2 separate regions of the Homo sapiens genome follow, and region 1 is linked to region 2. The links come from fine-mapping of genetic effects on gene expression. A gene starts in region 2. The other region holds a variant in brackets. All regions are shown on one strand. Distances are between the middles of the regions.

Region 1 (2,500 bases), 22 kb after region 2:
GTACACAAGGGTGGCTGGTCCCCTGCCTGGCTTGGGTTATGACTGAAGTGGCCATTTACACATCTGCAGCTGGCAGGGCCCCCAGCAACCAGGAATAGCCTGCTCCTGGGTTCTTTGTGCACAGAGTCCCAGCTGGCCTGGGCAGAGGCTGGGGTGGCCCCCGTCCTGTCTCCGAGACCCAGACTCCACAGTGGGCAGCCCAGGAAGGTTTTTTTTAGGAGCATTAGAAAATGTTGACATGTTTTTTGAAACAATTTCAGATCTGATATCTCCGCCAGATTGAGTTTGTAACCAGCTTTATTGTTTAAGCCTGCTGGGATTTCATCAAAGGCGTCTGCTGTTTACCCAGAACCATTTCATTGGAGAAAACAGCAAACAGACCTGCATTTCTATCTGATTTCACTTTTTCCCTTTTCTCATGAATTTAAGAGCTTGTGAAAAGCAAGGCTGATAAGGCAAGGCAGCGAGGATCACATCCGGAAGAGGGGGGTCACAAGGATCTCAGCTGAGGTTTATTAATAGAGCAGAAAAAAGTTGGGGGTAGCTGGCCGCTTCTCAGGGGGAGGGCAGCAGCCAGCCCTCTGCAGGGGGACCTTGGGCCGGGGGGGAGGGGAGGTGGGGAGAGCTGCTGTTCACCCGTACTCTGCCCAAGATTTTTAGGTCATCTCCTGGTGTCTGTTGTCTTTACCAGTTTCTGGACTATTTCAGACACTGGCAGTGATAAAAGACTGAACATCAGCTCTCACCTGGAAAGCAGCAGTGACCTGGCCTCAGAGATGGGTTCAATGAGACAGATTCAAGCTTTCCTGGGAGAAAGCCGAGTAAGGAAACACATCAAAAGGCACATGGAAGGCAGATGATGAGAGTACCGGGAAAATTGCCTTCCTGCTCCTCCCCTGCCAACACTTGGGATTCAGTCCCTTCTCCTGCCAGGCAGCCTGAGCCAGGGCAGGGCAGGGCCCAGGGATGCTTGTCACAGGCTCAGCACGCCCTCACCTCGCCAAGGAACCTACACCAGTGTTATCGCCACCCGCCTAACAGCATCCAGGTGCCTCTAAGCGGGCCTGTTGACCCAGCAAATATGAGCCCAACAGGGGAGACGCTGGCTCTGCAGCCTCTCAGGAGAAGGCGGTCTGAGAAATTTGGGTTAATATGCCTTGTTCCGTGCTTGAGCGACAGCTAGTTAAGTGCATGGGTTGCTCGGCACATAGGCCATCTCTCACCAGTTGCACATTAGACCCACTTATAAAGTCAATCGATTCGAACCAATTAGCAAGAAGATAAGGACTTGTTTACCTTTGATGGTAGATCTTGCAGCGAGCCATCTGAGGGGGATGATAATGATCCAGGGGTATTTCTTCAGCACGCAGTGCCAGGCAGAACCATGTTGTTCTACGCCTTCTGGCAGGTGGGACTTCCGGCGACAGTGAGAGTCAGCTCCCTCATCTGGGGTATGAGCCTGTAAGGACGAGGAGAGTGAGCAAAGGACAAAG[G/T]TCTTTCCAGAGCCAAGCTTAGGCCCTCCTGGCTGTAGAGGTTCCCCTGCCATGCCTATCTTTTTTTTTTTTTTTTTTTTGAGACAGAGTTTCACTCTTGTCACCCAGGCTGTAGTGCAATGGCGCAATCTCGGCTCACTGCAACCTCCGCCTCCCGAGTTTAAGTGATTTTCCTGCCTCAGCTTCCCGAGTAGCTGGGGTTACAGGCACCTACCACCATGCCCGGCTAATTTTTGTATTTTTAGTAGAGACGGTGTTTCACCATGTTGGCCAGGCCGGTCTCAAACTCCTGTCCTCAGGTGATCCACCCGCCTTGGCCTCCCTTGGCCTCCCAAAGTGCTGGGATTACAGGTGTGAGCCCCTGCACTCGGCCCCATGCCTACCTTTTGCAGTGAGAGCTCAGTGGGCTGCTGGGGCCTGAGAGGCTCATTCCATCACTGTGGGCTCTGAGCATGGTCCCAGGGCCCCTGTAAGCACAGGGGAACCACATGCTCCAGACACAGGGCCTTGGGAGTATTTCTGGCCATCTGTTGACAGCCTCTGTCATCTCATTTCATGATTTTTTTTTTTTTTTAGAGATGGGGTCTTACTATGTTGGCCAGGTTGGTCTTGAACTCCTGGCTTCAAGCAGTCCTCCCACCTCGGCTTCCCAAAGTACTGGGATTATATGCAGGTATGAGCCACTGCACCTGGCCGTCATTTAATCTTTATAAGCCTCCTTTTTAACCACCTTTCCCCCAACGCAAGCGTGTATTATCCCCTTTCCTAGAGAAGGAAACTGAGGCTTGGAGGTGGGAGGCAGCAGAGCCTGCTTGTGTTGACCGAGGTCACCGGGCCTGTCAGTGGCGGAGCTGGGATTGGAATCCAGGCCTGGCTGACTCCAGCATCTTCACTCAGACTCATTGTCCTCTGCCTTCTGTGAAGTTAGGTAGTGGCAGGACCTTCTCCCAAATTGTGGGTTTGATAAGCTCGCAAGCTGGTGGGAAGGGGATGGAGCAGGCCCCTTG
Region 2 (2,500 bases):
ACCATCAGCTCCAAGGCTAGGGCTGCAGGAGCAGAGGGGCCTCCAGGGATGTCGAGGAACTGGAGAGAGGAGCCCGCTGACTTGGTGTCCATCACTAGAATGAGTCCCAGCCACCTCGGGCTTCACAGAGCATGCCCAGCCAAGCCTGCTGGGAGGAGACATGGATGCTAGCTGGAAACAGGCAGCAGGCAATAACCTGCTCTTCCCCACCTGCCCGTCACTGTCCACATGCTGCCAATAGCCGCTTGTGTTTACTGAGCACTTGTTACAGCCTCACTGAGTGTGCTCCACGCCTTATCTCATGCCACCTCCACCCCCACCCTGCAGGATCCGTCTGTGCTCATTCCTCCGTGTCAGATGAGGAAACTGAGGCATAGCTAGCTGGAGTCCCTTTCCCTGGGCCACCCAGCCGGCGCACTGCTGAGTCAGGATGCAGCCCCCGCTCTGTCTGTCAAGCCCACCGTCTCCCTTGCCCTCTGGACCTCTGTGCTCCACTGTCTCACGTGCCCATCTGTCTTGATTTCTCTGACATTTGTTTTGTGGGGCGCTGGGCGCTGCTGATTCATTTCTGGCTTCTCGCAGAGCTTGCTGGTGGTTCCTATGCACTCCCCTCTGCGGTTCCTCAGGAGCCTCTCTGGCTGGGATCTGGGACTCCTGGGGCCTGAGCTGCTGTCTCATATGTCCTCTCCTACTCCCTCTCCCCCGGTGTCTGGAAGACACAGTCCTCACCTCTGTCTCCTGCCCTGGTTTCTTCCTTGGGGACAGAGATGGGACAGTGGGCCAGGAACCCTCCTGCCTGCTTTCACGCCCCTGAGGAGGGCCCAGGGCCATGGATTATTGGGGGGCTGTGCTCTGCTTGGGATCTCAGCCCTCCCCATGGTTTGCTCTCCCTGGCTTCCCTCCAGGGTGACCTGATGGACTTGCTAGCACAGCCCCGGAACACACTGGCTCCACCACCTATACCTGCCCCTCTTGCCTTGTAGTGCTCCCTACCTCCTGGGGGGCCTTCCCGCAGCCCAGCCCTAGCCTGCCAGGCAGGATGGCAGCTGCAGGGCTCAGCTGTCCTCCAGAAAGGGCTTCTCCTGTCCCCTTCCAGCCACGGTTGAGTCCCAGAGAGGTCAGTTCTCCCCGTGATTCTTTAGGAAAAGAAAGAAGATGAAACAAGGCAGAGAGTCTAGCTGATCTTAGGGTGCAGGAGCGTGGAATCCCGCTTCAGAGTGGAGGCCTCCTCCGCTGTGGTGAGGCTCGTGCTTCCGAACCTGTGATCACTGTCTAACCAGTCAGCGAAGCGTGGAAACGAAACTGCAAACAGCCCCTGCTATCTGATTCAGGAGAGTCGCTCTGGAGACCTCTGTGCTGGCACAGCAAAAGAGTTGGTACCATAGTGTGTGTGCGTGTGTGTGTGTGTGTGTGTGTGTATGTACAGAAACACACCTGGCAAAGCATGCAACAGGCTCCCTGTAGTGTGTGTGGCAGAGGTCACTGTTGCAGAGCAGGACACCCTAGTGCACCAGAGCCTCTGCTGGCACCCACACCATTGGTCCACTGGCAGGGCTCGGTGCCGTGGCACGATGGTGAGCCAGTCAGTGGGGGCAGGGGCTCCCAGGAGTGGGCAGGCCAGCGCTGTGTGTGCCACATGTCAGGAACAACACTTGCTGAGTGGGTGTGTGGCTCGCCCTCACAGGGGGTGGGTGGGCACGACTCGTGACATGTCTGCCAGGGGACAGACCACTGCAGCCCCCAGCGATGGGCCACTTGGCAGCTCACTGAGTTGATTCCAGAGGGTAGTGGCATCATGGTGACAACTACGTGAGCAAGGGTCTTTCCCAAATCAGGACAAAAGCTGGGCTCCCAACTTTCAGCCCACTGAGGTGGTAGAAAGTTTGCTTCTGCCTCCAAAATCATCCCCACAGGATTTGCTATCTCTTTCTGGGCACCAGGACCAGCACGCAGTGAAGGGGGCCTTTACATATGCTTATGTTGAGAGATTCATGAGGCCCTGGGGGGAAATTGGCATTCTTCTGACCATGATTTATTTATACGGCGATAGGATGATGGGGATATGGAGGCTAAGGTGACTCCATGAGTGAGAAGCGCACAAGGCAAGAAGCCTTGCTCTGCATTTGACATTTAGTGGGGTGACTCCTACCAGGGAGCTGCTTTTCCTTTTAGAAGGTTTTGCCTTTAATGTTCTATTCATGGGCTTGTCTGAGCAAGCTGGGAGAAGGAAGGAGCACGTGTGGAGGTGGGCCTGGGGTCTACAGCTGGCCAGCCTCAGGGGAGGCAGGGCCGAGGGAGGTCACTTGATGGCCAGTGAGGGGCACCTGGGCAGGCCGGACGCTGGGGACAATGGCTATGCTCTGGCGCTGCAGCCCGGCCTCCCGCCTGCCCGCCTGCTGCCGCCTGTCGCTGGCATGTGCCGCATGCCACACGCTGCGTCTCTCTGTCTCTCATCACACGCTGCCAGACTCCGTCTCTCACCGCAGCCCTGTATGCAACC

Which allele goes with the higher level. Alleles are on the strand shown, and positions count from the first base shown. SD is a standard deviation of normalised expression in the study named.
With allele T in place of G in region 1, the expression in liver of the gene that starts at base 1,385 in region 2 is lower (small effect, 0.30 SD a copy in GTEx).

The links. PIP is the estimated chance that this variant, and not a neighbour inherited with it, causes the effect.
Region 1: its variant is fine-mapped to the expression of RTN4RL1-AS1 in liver (GTEx, PIP above 0.99).

The regions. Positions count from the first base shown.
Region 1 is chr17:1,994,500-1,996,999 of GRCh38, reverse strand. All of the region lies in intron 1 of RTN4RL1 (reticulon 4 receptor like 1), which reads left to right. Among named protein-coding and RNA genes, the nearest start is that of RTN4RL1-AS1, 22 kb to the left of the region's middle. The variant G/T (reference allele first, on the strand shown) is at 1,494.
Region 2 is chr17:2,016,601-2,019,100 of GRCh38, reverse strand. It overlaps RTN4RL1-AS1 (RTN4RL1 antisense RNA 1), which reads right to left and starts at 1,385. Exons shown (of 2, transcript NR_135642.1): 1 at 994-1,385. The region is part of intron 1 of RTN4RL1 (reticulon 4 receptor like 1); the gene reads left to right. All of the region lies in intron 1 of LOC105371486 (a long non-coding RNA gene), which reads left to right. RefSeq lists an enhancer at 679-788.